Linked DNA regions of Homo sapiens: region 2 is linked to region 1. The links come from fine-mapping of genetic effects on gene expression. A gene starts in region 1. The other region holds a variant in brackets. All regions are shown on one strand. Distances are from middle to middle.

What was found. PIP is the estimated chance that this variant, and not a neighbour inherited with it, causes the effect.
Region 2: its variant is fine-mapped to the expression of TXNRD1 in whole blood (INTERVAL, PIP 0.98).

What each region holds. Positions count from the first base shown.
Region 1 is chr12:104,210,245-104,218,784 of GRCh38, forward strand. It overlaps TXNRD1 (thioredoxin reductase 1), which reads left to right and starts at 5,535. Exons shown (of 17, transcript NM_001093771.3): 1 at 5,535-5,649. The coding sequence starts at 5,559. RefSeq lists enhancers at 5,311-5,927, 5,928-6,543 and a silencer at 5,398-5,487.
Region 2 is chr12:104,301,481-104,310,595 of GRCh38, forward strand. All of the region lies in intron 4 of TXNRD1 (thioredoxin reductase 1), which reads left to right. It overlaps EID3 (EP300 interacting inhibitor of differentiation 3), which reads left to right and starts at 2,259. Exons shown (of 1, transcript NM_001008394.3): 1 at 2,259-3,725. The coding sequence starts at 2,455. The coding sequence ends at 3,456. RefSeq lists enhancers at 226-395, 2,187-3,059, 2,367-2,606, 2,637-2,696 and a silencer at 2,097-2,326. The variant A/G (reference allele first, on the strand shown) is at 3,324.

The sequences.
Region 1 (8,540 bases):
CATTTGGTTGATGTGTCTCCTGTCTCTCTCTCTCTCTCCCTCTTTATATTGTAGTAAAATATACATGAGAAATTGACAATTTTAAGCATTTTAAAGTATACAGCTTAGTGGCATTAAGCACATTTACACTGTGTGGAACCATCACACCATCCGTCTCCAGAACTACTTCTATCTTACCAAATTAAAACTCTGTACCCATTAAATTAAACTCCTAATTTCCCCCTCCCCCAAATCCCTGGCAACCACTATTCTACCTTCTGTCTTTGCGAATTTGACAACTCTGGGTACTTCATATATCCTAAGTCTCTTTTCATCAATAAGTTCCCACTTCCTCTTTTTCTTCCCTTGCAATTACTGTATTTGTGGATGAAATTGGCAGATTCTGGATTTTGCCATTTACATCCCCATAGTGTTGTTTAACTTGTTCCTTTATCTTCTTTTTCCTATAAGCTGGATGTAGGGAATTTATTTATTTATTTATTTATTTATTTATTTATTTATTTAAGACGGAGTCTCGCTCTGCCGCCCAGGCTGGAGTGCAGTAGCGGGATCTCGGCTCACTGCAAGCTCCGCCCCCCGGGTTCACGCCATTCTCCTGCCTCAGCCTCCCGAGTAGCTGGGACTACAGGCGCCTGCCACCACGCCTGGCTAATTTTTTTGTATTTTTTTAGTAGAGAGGGGATTTCACCATGTTAGCCAGGATGGTCTCGATCTGACTTCGTGATCCACCTGCCTCGGCCTCCCAAAGAGCTGGGATTACAGGCGTGAGCCACCGCTCCCGGCCAATTTATTCATTTTTAAATATCATTTGAAGGTAGAGTGGACAGGACTTGCCGGCCAATTGAAGGTGGAGTATGAGAGAGAAGAATCAAGGATGACGCCAAGGTTTTTGGCCTGAGCAAGTGGAAGAATGGAGTTGCCATTTTCTGAGATGGGGAAGACCGTGGGAATAGGTTTGGGAGGGGACAATCTGCTTGGACATTTTAGGCTTGAGATGTTTATTAGACACTCAAGTGGAGATGCCAGGTGCCAGGTGAATATGTGAGCCTGGAGTTAATGAAAGTGGCTGCAGCAGGAGACATAAGTTTGGGAGTTGTCAGCAGATAGATGACATTTAAAGCTCTGAGACTAAAGGAGATCACCAGAGAAGCAAATGCAGATTATAAGAGAGAGAGGAGGGGAGAAGTTCGAGGACTGAGCTTTAGTACTTCAATATTAAGTGCCAGGAAAATTGAGGAGGAACCAGCAAAGGAGACTGAGTAGGGGCATCCAGCACAATAGGAGAAAATCTAGGTTAGTGTGGTACCCTGGAAGCCAATCATTCTAAGGAGGAGATTATGAAACATGGGTCATATGTCATGGATAGGCCAAGTAAGATGAGGACTGGGAATTAATTATTATTGGGTAGAAAAGAGATGCCCTCCCCCAGGCATGGTGGCTCACGCCTGTAATCCCAGCACTTTGGGAGGCCGAGGTGGGTGGATCATCTGAGGTCAGGAGTTTGAGACCAGCCTGGCCAACATGATGAAACCCCGTCTCTACCAAAAATATAAAAAATTAGCTGGGTGTGGTGGCATGCACCTGTAATCCTAGCTACTCAGGAGGCTGAGGCAGGAGAATTGCTTGAACCCGGGAGATGGAGGTTGCAGTGAGCTGAAAGTGTGCCTCTGCACTCCAGCCTGGGCGACAGAGTGAGACTCTGTCTCAAAAAAAGAAAAGAGATGCCCTCCCTTTTGATGCTCTTTAAACAAATCATGTATAATTAAATTAAAACTCAATGGCCAGGTGCAGTGGCTCACGCCACTTTGGGAGGCCAAGGCGGGTGGATCACCTAAGGTCAGGAGTTCAAGACCAGCCTGGCCAACATGGTGAAACCCTATCTCTACTAAAAATACAAAAAAGTAGCCAGGTGTGGTGGCGTGCACCTATAGTCCCAGCTACTCAGGAGGCTAGGCAGGAGAACTGCTTGAACCCGGGAGGTGGAGGTTGCAGTGAGCCAAGACGGCACCACTGCACTCCAGCCTGGGTGACAGAGTGAGACTCCATCTCAAAAAAAAAAAAAAAATTAGGCCGGGTGCGATGGCTCAAGCCTGTAATCCCAGCACTTTGGGAGGCCAAGGCGGGGGGATCACGAGGTCAGGAGATCGAGACCATCCTGGCTAACACGGTGAAACCCGTCTCTACTAAAAATAAAAAAAAATTAGCTGGGTGTGGTGGCGGGCGCCTGTAGTCCCAGCTACTCAGGAGGCTGAGGCAGGAGAATGGCGTGAACCCGGGAGGAGCTTGCAGTGAGCCAAGATCTCACCACTGCACTCCAGCCTGGGCGACATAGTGAGACTCCATCTCATAAAAAAAAAAAAAATTAAAAAAATTAAATCTCAAAACAAAGTTCCCAGGGAAACATTCTTTTCATGTATAGGAATTAGTGGAGTGTGATGTCATAGTAATAAGAGAGGTTAGTGGTTAAGAGCAGAGGCTTGGAAATTAGGAAACCTGGATTTCAGTATCAAGCTGTGTGATCCTGTGCAATTAATCCCCTAAGCATCAGGATTCTCCTCTGTAAAATAGGAATAATAAGAGACCCTTCTAAATGTGGCTCTTGCAGGAAAAACATGAGATAAGCATACTTTTATGCCAGTAAAGGACTTAGCAGGATGCCTGGCTCGCCGTAAGTACCCAACAAATTGTTGGCTATTATAAATATGATAGGATGACACAGGTAGGCACATGACTCTCAGATACTTTTGCCTAGGTGTTTAAAATAACAGGAAAGCCATCATCTTAGTTAAATACATGTACTAAATAGAGAAAAATACATGACAGCCACAGTTGGAATTTTGATGATAAAATGGTAATTTTAACATAAATTGAATAGCATATTTAAAAAAAAAATCTCTGAAACAGTCATTCCAGTGGAACCAAGGAACTGTAGACCTGGCTCGCAGAGGGAGGGAACTTTGCTTTTAAAGGGTCCTGGCTTAGTTGCATTAGTTACTACAGACACCAAACACTTGGATGAAGTTGTTATTAGGATTTACTTTAGGGCCGGGCACGGTGGCTCACACTTGTAATACGAGCACTTTGGGAGACTGATGCAGGTGGATCACCTGAGGTCAGGAGTTTGATACCAGATTGACCAACATGGTGATACCCTTTTTCTACTAAATACAAAAAATTAGGCAGGCATGGTGGCTGATGCCTGTAATCCCAGCTACTTGGGAGGCTGAGGCAGGAGAATCACTTGAACCTGGGAGGTGGAGGTTGCAGTGAGCCAAGATTGTGCCATTGCACTCTAGCTTGGGCAACAAGAGCAAAACTCCATCTCAAAAAAAAAAAAAAAAAAAGAAAGAGAGAGAGAGAGATTTACTTTAGCTTTGTGCAATGTCTGTTATTAAAAGCCTTTGGTGGCCGGGCACGGTGGCTCATGCCTGTAATCCCAGCACTTTGGGAGGCTGAGGTGGGTGGATCACAAGGTCAGGAGATTGAGAACATCCTGGCTAACATGGTGAAACCCCGTCTCTACTAAAAATACCAAAAAAAATTAGCGTGGTGGTGGACGCCTGTAGTCCCAGCTACTAGGGAGGCTGAGGCAGAAGAATAGCGTGAACCCGGGAGGCGGAGCTTGCAGTGAGCCGAGATCGTGCCACTGCACTCCAGTCTGGGCAACAGAGCGAGACTCCATCTCCAAAAAAAAAAAAAAAAAAAGCCTTTGGTTCAGTTTTATTTGTTTTCTGTGTTTAAGCAAATAAACACCCAGTGTTTTCCAAGAGCATTTTGACTCTGGGCTGCTCTCCAGAGAAGCAGGATATAAGCTTGTCCACAAACCCAAATGAAAACAAAGGGCCCACACAATTGCCACGCATCTGGTGACCAGACAAGTTCACTAAATCTCAGCTGGGGTGGAAGTTCCTTGAGACCAGGGAATTTGAGTCACCTTGTAACCCTAAACAAAGCCAGGCATAAGTTGGATGCTTACCATATGTTAGTTAATTGAAAGAAGGAAAAACAGAGCACTGCACTGATAGAGAACAGTGACTGTGCACCTGATGTGCCGCAATGTGGTTTGGTGTTAAAAAAAATCACTCTCATTCATTACTAGTAGGAGTTCAAATGGGAACCACAGTTCCAAAAAAGCAATTTTGGCAACGTGTAATGACAGCCTTAAAACTATAAACACAAAGATGTTCCCTGCAGCCTTATTCATAATTTTTAAAAATAAAAAACAAACTAAACATCTAATAATAGGCTATGTAATCGTCCAGTAGCTCTAGTGGATGGACTATTACATTATTATAATTATTCAAATTAATATTTTCCCGCTTCTTCCCTGCTTTCCTTCAAGAGGTGGGGGAGGCCACCTGGCCCAAGCTGAAGGCCAAGATACAAGAAAAAAATGCAAAGGTTCTATTTTGGCAGCGTTTACATGGGCAGGGTGTCGTGGGGAGGCTGGCGGAGGGAGTGGGAGCAGGTGACAGAGAATATAGGGTAAGTTAGAAGGCTCTCAGTGCTGGTAAAAATAAAATAGAGTAAAGTAAAGGGTGGGGGTAGAGTTGAGGGGGGCGTGATCAGATTTCTGTTCAAATAGGATGGTCTTTTTGCTGTGAACTTAAGACTGCTCTAAGGCCAGGCGCAGTGGCTGACGCCTGTAATCCCAGCACTTTGGGAGGCCGAGGCGGGCGGATCACAAGGTCAGGAGATCGAGACCATCCTGCCTAACACGGTGAAACCCCGTCTCTACTAAAAATACAAAAAATTAGCTGGGCATGGTGGCACACGCCTGTAGTCCCAGCTACTCGGGAGGCTGAGGCAGGAGAATCGCTTGAACTTGGGAGGCAGAGGTTGCAGTGGGCTGAGATCGCGCCACTGCACTCCAGCCTGGGTGACAGAGTGAGACTCCGTCTCAAAAAAAAAAAAAAAAAAAGACTGCTCTAAAAAATAAAGTGTATTAAAAAGAAACTACGATGTTCAGTGTATGCTTCATCTACGGTCAAAGAGGCAAAGACTGAAGTGACAGTGGAAGCCAGGTGGTTATCTGGGAGGCTTACAAGACTATGTGATAGTATGGAAAATACTAGTATTAAGTGAAATGCTGGATGCAAAACTATGCATAGAGGGGAAAAACTGGAAAGAAATAGTAAACACAGCAAAAGTAGTTTGTGTGAAGGATAAATTTTTTAAAATTATTTTTTGTAGAAACAGGGTTTCTCTACATTGCCCAGGATGGTCTCAAACTCCTGGGCTCAAGCGATCAATCCTCCCACCTCGGCCTCCCAAAGTGCACAGGTGTAAGCCACCGCGCCCAGCCGAAGGATAAGGATTTTGGGTGGTGCGCTCTTTTCTCCTTTCCATTTCTGCATTTTCCAATTTACCTTTAGCGACCGTTCTTTCCTGTTAAAAAAAAAAAATTCACGACCTTGAAGAAGATACACGGGCTATGACTTCGCTGTTGTCACCGAGCGCCCCGCCCACCGCGTTCTCCGACCCGCGGCCGGCAGGGGGCTCGCGGCCTCCGCCAGGCGTCCTTCGGCTCCGTCAGTTCCCACAGGGCCTTGTGCGACATGGGCTGCGCCGAGGGCAAGGCAGTGGCGGCGGCCGCCCCAACGGAGCTGCAGACGAAAGGCAAGAACGGCGATGGCCGCCGTAGGTCAGGTACGACCGAGGGCGAAGGCCTGGTCCCCAGGTCGACGGGCCGAAGCGGGCCTTCCGGCCGGGGTTGGGGATAAAGTGCCCCGGAGCCCTGGCCTTGAAGCCCCTCACTGGAGTCAGTGACTGACCGCGCGCCACGCTGGAGACCCCAGAAACGCTCCCCCAGGTCACCCCGGGAGACGGAGGCCGGCGGCCGGCCGAGGGCTGCCCCGCCCGCTGGCTGTGAGAGAGGTGGGAGGTGGAAGGAGGAGCGGGCCCGCCGCGAGGACCTGCCCGGAAACCTGTCGGAAACCGAACCGAGATCTCGGCAGCGACCCGCCTGATTTCGCTCAGGGCCCGTTAGGGCGTCCTCTTCCTACAAGCACCGTGTTTCCAATGAAAGGTTACGGGGGAAGCGACCAAACCGACAGCCGAGTCCGGGGGTGCCCCTTCACCTCTCCAGAAGCCCCCGGCCCACTCCCAGCATCCTCCTCCATCGAGAATCTTGTCCGACACGCCTTCCCGGCCCCCTTTCTCCATCCCCTTGAATTTTGGGCACATTTCTCCCACCATCATCCCGCTTTATCCTTTCACTTGTTCTTCCAGAAGAGAAAGCTCCCAGTCTCTTCTCCATTGTCCGGATAATGCCAATAATGGCTAGTGGTTACTAAGCACTGACATGAGAGGGGCCTTTGGAAGCACTAGACATGGGTAATAATCTTGGTTCATGTTTCCAGCCATACTGAGAGATTTATCATAAACCCCATTATACAGATGAAGAAACTGAGAAGCAAAGAGGTTATAAAACTTACCCAAAGCACACAACTAGTAAGTGGAAGAGCTGGGATACCAGTTGAGGCCATCTGACTCAAAAGCCCTGGTCATAGTCATATGGCCGCCTCCACCTTTTTTATAGGCTTGAGAAAGTGAGGCTCCAAAAAGTGCCTTGCCCAATGGCTAGAATTATTAAATGCTGTAGGATCTGCCTCTTTCAAAGGCTTACAGTTTAGTTACAAGGCAGCATATGGTGAAGGGCTAAAAGGAGTGGTAAAAACAGCCAAGTGGGGATGGCAGCTCCCATAGATGAGGTAGGATTTGGTAGAGGTGTCTGAAGGGAGAACATTCTTGTTAGGGGAAGCAGCCGGTGAGACCATGCTAGAGATAGGGAGGCCTGTATATCCTGCTGGAGTTAAGGACTTGGATTAGGGGAAGGGAAGAATAAAGGAACAGGGTAGGAGCAAGGTCAGGCAAGGTCCAGGTCAGGCAGCTAATTTGTGGCCATTAGTACAATGAAGGAGTTTGAGCAGGTGCATCCCAAATTGACGTTTCATGTGCCATCCTCAGGATCTTCTTGATATCTATGTCCTTCCATTTATTTACTGTTTTTCTTTAGCTACATTCTTTTTGTGTGTGGTTAAAAAAAAAAAATTTACCATCTTAACAATTTTGTTTTTTTTTTTTTTTTAGTTTCGCTCTCGTTGCCCAGGCTGGGGTGCAATGGCGCCATCTTGGCTCACCTCAGCCTCCACCTCCCAGGTTGAAGCGATTCTCCTGCCTCAGCCTCCCAAGTAGCTGGGATTACAGGCATGCACCACCACGCCTGGCTAATTTTGTATTTTTAATAGAGACAGGTTTTCACCATGTTGGTCAGGCTGGTCTTGAACTCCTGACCTCAGGTGATCTGCCCACCTCAGCTCCCCAAAGTGCTGGGATTACAGGCATGAGCCACTGCACCCAGCTGACCCTAACCGTTTTTAAGTATACAGTTTTCAGCAGTATTAAGTATATTCACATTGTTGTGAAGCAGATCCCCTGAACTTTTTCATCTTGCAAATCTGAAACTCCATGCCAACTCGTTAACTTTTCATTTGCCGTTTCCCCCAGCCCCTGGTATCCATCATTCTACTTTCTGTTTCTGTGAAATTTGGCTACTTTAGATTGCTTATATAAGTTGGTATCATACAGTGTCTGTCTTTTTGTGACTGGCTTGTTTCACTTAGCATACTTGTCTTCGAGTTTCATCTGTATTGTAGCATGCGACAGGATTTCCTTACTTTTTAAGGCTGAATAATATTCCATTGTGTGTGTGTATATGTACATACACACACACATATATACACACACACACACACAAAATGGAATATATATACACACACACACCACATTTTTTTTTTCCCGAGATGGAGTCTTGCTCTATCGCCAGGCTGGAGTGCCGTGGCATGATCTTGGCTCACCACAATCTCCGCCTCCTGGGTTCAAGCAATTCTCCTCCCTCAGTCTCCCAAATAGCTGGGATTACAGGCCCGCCACCATGCCCAGCTAATCTTTGTATTTTTAGTAGTGACGGGGTTTCACCATGTTGGCCAGGCTGGTCTTGAACTCTTGACCTCGTGATCTTCCCGCCTCAGCCTCCCAAAGTGCTGGGATTACAGGCTTGAGCCACCACGCCCGGCCTGAACTATTTTATAATACAGAAAAGCTCACTCGTTATAATACAACTTGCTAAATTTTTACAAACGAAGTATATGCATGCAGCCCACACTCAGCTGAGGAAATAAACGTTTCCAGTACCCCAGGAGCCCCTCTAATGTCTCTTACCCCCATACCAAGGGCAAACACTACTCTGATTTCTAACAGCATAGAAGAATTTCACCTATTTACATTTACTTTTTGAAACTTAAATTTAGGCATATTTTAAGCATTAATCTATTAAAGCACGGCTTTATACTAGGTATTTTTCTTTTTCTTTTCTTTCTTTTTTTTTTTGAAATAGGGTCTTGCTCTGTTGCCCAGGCTGGAGTGCAGTGGCCCAATCATAGCTCATTGCAGCCTCAACCGCCTGGTCTTAAACAATCCTCCCACCTCAGCCTCCTGTGTGGTAAAGTGTGCCACCAAGCCCAGCTAATTTTTTTACA
Region 2 (9,115 bases), 92 kb after region 1:
GCGCCTGCAACCACGCCCGGCTAATTTTTTGTATTTTTAGTAGAGACGGGGTTTCACCGTGTTAGCCAGGACGGTCTTGATCTCCTGACCTCGTGATCCGCCCGCCTCAGCCTCCCAAAGTGCTGGGATTACAGGCGTGAGCCACCGTGCCCGGCTGCTTTTGTTGAATTTAAAGTGGATGTGAGAAGCTCCTAAGAATATCGTTCACTGTAAAAGCAGACTTTTTTGGATTTGGGTCTTGGAATTCTTAACTGTATTTTCACCTAAGATTTAAAACAAGTTCAAATACTAGTTTGTAATTGGCCAGACTAGGGACAGATACGATCCTTGAATGATCCTGGGTCTCAACTTACCTTTCTTTCATTTTTCCTTTATTTTAGAAGAGGGATAAGAACTTTTTCTGAAGAGCAGTCAACTTTTCCTTTCAGTGTGTAGGATTAATTCCACGAATCTGTGAACTTAAATCTTTGCTGCCAAATAACTTGCAGTAGATGCTGGGATAGTTTTAAATCTATTTTAAGTTATACATTCAGTACATAAGTGCATCTCCGTGTAAAAACAGCTATGTTTGGAAGATCTAAAACGCAGCTTTTGTTTTTGAGAAGCCAACAATCTAATAGGGTAGGATCATATATATGTACAACTAACCGTAATGCATGGTGTTTTGAAAAATGCACGTATCTCCCTGAATTACCCCTAGTTAATAAAATAATTGGGAGCAAATGGTAATATAAGGATTTTGGAGTAACTTAATACTACTAGATTTTGCTGTTTATACATTTACAAAAAACTTTCTGCTAATGCTAAAGAAATAGAACAAGTCTATATGCATAAAGGAAGGTAGGGCTAATTTACTTCCTGGTGCTATGAAACTGGCAATTGGACAGGTGCAATTGTGGGTGTCTTTTTTTTTTTAAGGTGTACCTGTTGCAGGTTTGAAAAGCTGTTGATGCTCATGGGTTGTTTGTGTGCATGTTCTCTTTAAAAACCAGATGTATTCATTCCCTTTTTTTTTTTTTTTTTTTTTGAGACGGAGTCTCGCTCTATAGCCCAGGCTGGAGTGCAGTGGCCCGATCTCGGCTCACTGCAAACTCCGCCTCCTGGGTTCACGCCATTCTTCTGCCTCAGCCTACCGAGTAGCTGGGACTATAGGCGCCTGCCACCGCGCCCGGCTAATTTTTTGTAGTTTTAGTAGAGACGGGGTTTCACCGGGTTAGCCAAGATGGTCTCGATCTCCTGACCTCGTGATCCGCCCGCCTCGGCCTCCCAAAGTGCTGGGATTGCAGGCGTGAGCCACCGCGCCCGGCCATTCCCATTGTTATGTATACTTTGCTATTTGCTGCTGGTGAGACAGATAAGGAGTCACGTCTTTAACTGCACTTGAGTTTCCAGTGACCCCATTAAATCCAATGGGTAAATTTTCCCACGCAGATTACTCACCCAGTTTACAGATTAAGCTTTCATATCCTTAGACTGTATCTGAAATTTTCATAGCTTTGCCCACCTTTTAGGGTTCAGAGTTACTACCCATTCAGTGTCGGTGGCCTTTAGCTGTTGGCAAGCTTCCAAGTAAATAGCTCTTTTGCAGAGATCTCTACCCATTCTATTCTTCCACTCCTGGGTAGTGGAGAACCAAAGTTCACCTGAGTAATGCCCGTGCCCAGCACCCAGTTTCCTGCAGGGGTTAGCACGGATATTGGAGGCTCCCCCGATCCCACAGATACTCAGGATGGGTATTGGAGGGGGCTTGGTTTTTAAGAGGACATGTGAAAGTAATTAACCCGATTTACATTTGTATAATGAGTCCAAACACCACCTTGCAAAAGAACTGAGAGTTTAGCCTGCTTAATGGAGTTTCTGCTTTTCACGGTCCTTGGCCTTACCGACGGTTTACAGTCCAGCCAGATTTAGTTCACAAAAAACCAAAACCAGGTCGACCTCACTGCAGTATATGATGGCAGCGAGCGTTTTAAAGCGCAGGACCTTTAGTCTCCTCAATAGTTTTGTGTAAAGTTGTCCAAAAGTGTTTTTTTTTAAAGTGAGGTGATCCAGTCGGTAAACGCTTTGAAAAAGAATAGCTGTCCCCTGAGCGGGCATTAGTCGCGTGTGAGGTCAGGGCCCATCATTGCGCGTGTTGGGAGCGCCGCGCTGGTCTATGAGCGAGCGCCTCGGCTTGTGGCTGGGCCGGGCCGGGGCGGGGCTGTCTTCCCGCGGAGCGTGCTGGGGGCGGGTCGCGCCGGGCCGGGCCGCTAGTGCGCATGGGCGGGCGTCCTCGGCTCTAACTGCCGCCACTTTCCACACGCTGGGAGGGCCGTTACCTCAGAGATACCCGTGGCCGGCATGTTGGTTGAAAAAGCTTCCCGGAAGGGAGACGAAGAGAAAGGAGAGGAGCAGCTCGTGATCATCCCCGGTAGCGAGTACGCGGCGAAGTAGGCGGCGGCGGAGGGAGCGCTGATGAAGATGGATGTGTCAGTGAGGGCCGCGGGCTGCTCCGACGACCTCAGCTCTGGGGAGGCCGACGTAGACCCAAAGCTCCTGGAGCTCACCGCTGACGAGGAGAAGTGCCGCAGCATCCGCAGGCAGTACCGGCAGCTCATGTACTGCGTGCGGCAGAACCGGGAGGACATCGTGAGCTCGGCGAACAACTCCTTAACCGAGGCTCTGGAGGAAGCCAACGTCCTCTTTGATGGCGTGAGCCGAACCAGAGAAGCAGCCCTCGACGCCCGGTTTCTTGTTATGGCTTCTGATTTGGGTAAAGAAAAGGCAAAGCAGTTAAACTCAGATATGAACTTCTTTAATCAGTTAGCATTTTGTGACTTTCTGTTTCTGTTCGTGGGTCTGAATTGGATGGAAGGCGATCCTGACAAGTTGAGTGATTGTGATGATAGCATAGCTCTTTCCTTCTGGAAGGCAATAGAAAAGGAAGCAACATCCTGGATGGTAAAAGCTGAGACATTCCATTTTGTTTTTGGTTCATTCAAGCTAGAACGTTCTGCACCAAAGCCCCGACTTGAACACCAGAAAAAAGTTCGCAAGATGGAAGAAAATGGCAACATGCCTACAAAGTTGCAGAAGTTGGACCTGAGTAGTTATCCAGAAGCGACAGAAAAAAACGTAGAAAGGATTTTGGGATTGTTGCAAACCTACTTTCGAAAGTATCCTGATACTCCTGTGTCCTATTTTGAGTTTGTGATTGATCCAAACTCTTTTTCTCGTACTGTGGAGAATATATTTTATGTTTCTTTTATTGTAAGAGATGGTTTTGCAAGAATAAGGCTTGATGAAGACAGGCTGCCAATATTAGAGCCGATGAATGTTAACCA[A/G]ATGGGTGAGGGAAATGATTCCAGTTGCCATGGCAGGAAACAGGGAGTTATATCTTTGACTTTACAGGAGTGGAAAAACATTGTGGCAGCTTTTGAAATTTCTGAGGCTATGATTACATACTCCTCATACTAAAGATTTCTTAGTATAGCATCCTTTTTGTGTTTTTTTTCTGAAGTTAGATGGAGAGTAAAATGTAAACTGAAGCACATATTGTATCTCTTGTAAAGTGAAAAAGTATTTTCAAGAACATCAGACATTGTTTTACTGTGCAGCATATTTTTCTTAGTAATTTATAAGGTCATGATCTTCTGTTATTAAAACAAATTCACTGGCATATTTATGGGAACGTTTTATTGAATGCCCTTTAAGACTATTAATAAAAACAAGTTTTGGATACCAAATTAAGGGATATTTGATAATTTGCAAAACATAATAATTTACGAAAATCAGTGATGATGCTCTGTGATGCGTTGCTTTCTCTGTCATAGGGAACCAAGAGAATCCCAGAAAGGGTTCCTAACCAGGTTGGGCAAAGAGTGGGTAAAAAACAAAAGTTAAAAAAAAAAACCTGTCTGTAAGGCAGTGAATATGCAACATTAAGACTAAAAAAGTCATTGCAAGGAAGACTTAGGATTTATGAGTGAGTATCCATATTCTAAACAATTTCTGTTATTGTACTCAGCAAAAGTAGTGTCTCTGCTGTAGTAGTTGAGGTATCAGCTAAGGGTGAAAGGTGAGTAGAAACACGAAGAAGGAAAAGGCATTCTAGGCAAGAGAATAGCAAGGTCAAATGCATGGAATTGTTAGAAGTTAGGCACGAGAGGACCATTAGATTTATGGAAAAACTATTATATTTGATAAGCTGGGCAACAATTGAATAACTTCATCTATTAATATCCTGAGAAGATGTTTTTGTCAAACTATTATACATTGAACACAAGATCTTGCTATCCAGTTGTAGTTTTTATCTACTGAATTTCTTCTCTGGCCCCTAGTGTCCCTTTGTGGTCTTTGCTAGTACATAGAATGTCCTTCACAATCTACGCTTTTTCATCATGTAACAACTTTGAATATTTGTCCCACTTTAATTTTGCATTTCTATCTTTTTTTTTCCCCCTCGAGACAGAGTATCACTCTTGCCCAGGCTGGGGTGCAGTGGTGCAATCTCGGCCCACTGCAACCTCTGCCTGCGGGGTTCAGGCGATTCTTGTGCCTCAGCCTCCCAAGTAGCCGGGATTACAGGTGTGTGCCATCACACCCAGCAAATACTTGTATTTTTAGTAGGAACAGAGTTTCGCCATGGTAGCCAGGCTGGTCTCGAACACCTGGCCCCAAGTGATCCACCCGCCTCGGCCTCCGGAAATGCTGGGATTACAAGTGTGAGCCAAATTTTGCATTTCTTAATAGGGCTTTAAATGCCAGGAAACTGACCTTGCTGAAACTAAAACATGTTAGTTTATCTGGATGTTCTTCACTTAGTGTAAAGCCATAAAGGCTTTTTTCTTTCCGTTGCATAAATTACAACCTTATTTGGAGATTATTGCCAAAAGTTTGGGTCATTAAGAAAGTAACTTGAGAAGGTGCAGTAAGCATACCCATAAGCTTTCTTCCCCTTGATCCCTATAGGAGCTTAATTTTTGGTAGTCGTGGAATTTTGCCATTAAACAATACTTTGGCAAATGTTTAGGTATCTGTTATGCATAGCAGTGGCAAACTTTCCTAGTAAGTCTAGTGGTACAGGAAAGGGAAATCCAAAGACTCAACAAATGACACCAAGACTGAGAGGAAGGATTTTTCATGTATGGAGATGAGGTTCTTCACCAATAATAGAGTAGAGGTTTTAGCAAAAATAGAACTTTCTCATGAAACTTGGCAAATTATTTTCTAAATTAGTTACTCCTTTCACATATGAAAGAGCGCTGACCCTTGCTAGTGTCTAGTATCCTTTGATTTATAGTAGCAGTCATGGAAGCACCATTTGATCTCACTCATCCTCATTTCCAGCATGTCTCTACCAACCAAGTTCCTTGGGTTTTGCAGAGATCTGCTGTTGGAAGAAAAAGTACTCTTAATGACAGCAAAAAGATCCCGCCCCAGTACTTTACTGACATTCAGTTGCTCTGTTGAATGTCTCATGTCTTTACTAGGAGTATTTGACAGTGATGATTTAAAAGCATTAATAGAGAATCTGGAGGCTTAGGAGAGGTAATTTTTTTGGTCTTCTCTAAAGTTAATAGCTGTTAAAATATAAAGTTGACCACTTCTGTTTCTATTTTTACTGGTTGGCATGACACCAACCAGTAAAATGATGAGGATGATGGATTGCCTCATCATTTTTGAAATTTTGAAATTAAACTGACTGCTTACCTTGAAGAAAAAAGGAGATTAAAAATTTATAGAGGTTAAGAATCAAACTGCAAATCTGCTTGTTTCTTGCTAATACGTTTGTATACTGAATAGAAATAACATTATGCTAGTCTGTCTATATACTGGATCAAGATTTGTTAGGAAGAGGGCATTTCAAAATAGTGGAGATTGACGCAGGGAAGCTCAGCGGAGGACACCAGTGTAAATACATTCCAGCACTTCTTGACTTAGTTCCAGGCAATTTCCCTTCTTCAGGAGATGGAGAATTAGTAACTTAAAGGGATTAATTCCTACCAGCCACTATGCTAACATGCATTATCTTTCTTAAACTCAGCCATTTGATGAGGTCAGGAACCTGTTAGCTTCGTTAAGGATTAGGTGATTGGTCGAAGTCACCTGGCCTTGTGAGTGGTAGAGCAAGTATTTTAACGCAGGTTATTTCTGCATCAGAGCCATCTATAATGGTAGGGGAAATAAAAGTACAAATCTGGCAAAGGATAGAAACTATGTTTAGGGGAAAAGTCAGGATTGCTTATTCCAATTTTAAAAGACTGCCACAGTTGAATTGCTTTCTGTTTTGTGCCCTTTTTGGGGGAGCCTGGAGCAGTGTTTTACTAGGAGTGGGTCTGGGGAAAGGGATTACTATGACAGGCAGGTGGATGAAAAGGAAGGCTATCTAATGTGTAAGCCTTGCCAACAAGTGACAGTTGCCTGCAGGTCATCTCATATTCTATAGCATTGGTTCTCAAAGTGTATGAGGCCCTTTTGGCATACTTTAAGGTCAGAATTATTTTCATAATAGTAAGATGCTGTTTGCCCTTTTCTTTCTTTTTTTTTTTTTTGAGATGGAGTCTCACTCTGTAGCCCAGGCTGGAGTGCAGTGGCATGATCTTGGCTCACTGTGAGCTCCGCCTCCCGGGTTCACGCCATTCTCCTGCCTCAGCCTCTCGAGTAGCTGGGACTACAGGCGCCTGCCACCACGCCCAGCTAATTTTTTATATTTGTAGTAGAGACGGGGTTTCACCGTGTTAGCCAGGATGGTCTCGATCTCCAGACCTCATGATCCACCCGCCTTGGCCTCTCAAAGTGCTGGGATTACAGGCGTGAGCCACCACGCCTCGCTGCCCTTTTCACTCTTAATTCTCTTGCATGTAAACTGTGAAGTTTTCCAGAGGTTATATGACAGGTGATGTGGCAACAGATTGAATGGAGAAACAGATATGAGCTGTCTTTTGTTGTCAGACATTAAAGAGAATCGCAAAGATACAAAACAGTGCCATTCTTCTAATTAAAAAATTTTTTAAAATAAAAATACGTTAACATTTAATAAATATATTATTTTTAATTTGTTAATGAATATTTTAAGTTTCTTCTTAGTTTTAATTTCTAATATAGTAAATAGATAAAACCCACATTAACAAGCTCTTTGGAGTCTCAATTTTAAAGCTCTGTTTAAGATTGTAAAGGAGTCCTGAGATGAAAGAGTTTGAGAACCTCTGTAGCAGCCACCACAGTCAGCGGACATAATTTCAAGCAGTTGTAGTTGGAGGAGGATGGGGGAATTTTTCTCCTTTCCTTATCCCATCTCTGTGCTACCTTCTACTGTTTGGGGCAGCTGTTTTCTACTGTCTGTCTTATTTATATTTCAGGTGAAGTACCACTTAAATGGAACTGAATGATAGCACTTTCAATTTTAAGTTTGGTTAAAATTTTAAAAACAATGTTTCTTTTTTTTTTTTTTTTTGAGACGGAGTCTTGCTCTGTCACCCAGGCTGGAGTGCAGTGCCATGATCTTGGCTCACTGCAATCTCCGCCTCCTGGGTTCAAGCAGTTCTCCTGCCTCAGCCTCCCGAATAGCTGGGACTACAGGTGCACGCCTCCACGCCCGGCTAATTTTTTTTGTATTTTGGTAGAGACGGGGTTTCACCGTGTTGCCCAGGCTGATTGTGAACTCCTGAGCTCAGGCAGCCCTCCCGCTTCGGCCTCCCAAAGTGCTGGGATTACAGGCATGAGCCACCTCACTCAGTCTCATAATGTTTCATTCTAAGGTCAACTGAATGCTTCAATTGCCTGTGTCTTGCCAATTGGTAAATTTTACCTACAGTGCTTAAAAATGGTGAGGTTCATTCAGAGCTTTTTTGGTAAAATCTGTGCACTGGTTGATACAATTTGACTTGAAGCTTGAACCAGGAGAAGCCAGGTTACATACAGAATTTCAGTAAGGAACGGATTGTAAACATTGGTGAAGGGAATATGTGACTTTTCAGCATGAGGATACATTTTCTGGTATTTGTTCTAGTAGGTATGTTGGAGGAGGGGGATTCCTAGAACCATGGTTTTCATTTAGACAGCCAGTTATTGTGTTCTGTCACCATCTTTGCTAATTTCATGCAGATAAAATGAGGTTGAGATAAAAAATGATTGTATGTTATTTTTCCAGCAGAACATCTAACTGGATTTATTAGTTAACTCTTAAACCAGGAAGTCATGCTCTTTGAGACCCAGTAGGGAGTCACACTAGTTACTTGAAGCATAATTGATCCTTTGATCGAATGGCTATTATTACCAAATTGTTTTTCCCCCACAGTGCTTTGTATTGAAGGAGGAACCTTGGCCATAATGCCAGTTGATGACTACTGGCTGTGTTTACCAGCCTCTTGTGCTAGACCTTTTGTGCAGACTGTCAGAGTGGTGCAGTCTTGCCCCCACTGTTGCTGGTTTCCAGGTGTTCTCCCTTCAGTCCCTGAGCCACTACGTATGCCCGCCATGCTGCCAACAGGTAGCCACAGTGCTGTGCTTCCTCCTTCACATTGCTCCACCGCACCCCCTTCCACATCCCAAGAACCTTCTTCTTCCGCTGACCCCAAGCTCTGCCTTTCACCCCCTACATCTGATAGTAGGCAAGAGAGAAATGTGCAGTTTGGGCTGGTAAGTTTGGGGGCTTTTTTTTGTTATTAAAGTTAAGGCTTTTTGTTTGTTTGTTTTTTAAAATGAGATGGAGTCTCACTCTGTGAGACTCCCAGGCTGGAGTGCAGTGGCGCAATCTTGGCTCACTGCAACGTCTGCCTCCCGGGTTCAAGCGCTTCTCCTGCCTCAGCCTCCGGAGTAGCTGAGATTACAGGCACCCGCCACTACACCTGGCTAATTTTTGTATTTTTAGTAGAGACAGGGTTCACCCCGTTGGCCAGGCTGATCTCAAACTCCTGACTTCAAGTGATCCTCCCGCCTTGGCCTCCCGAAGTGCTGGGATTACAGGCGTGAGCCACTGTGCCTGGCCTACTTGATTTTTTGAAAACATTTTATTGTGCTTGTTAACAACTTTCTCAGTCATTATCTCTTGTTAACATAGATTTTTATTTTAGTAAGCGATAATATTAAATATATCACCAAAATATTGTATGAAACGAATATGAAATATAATTAA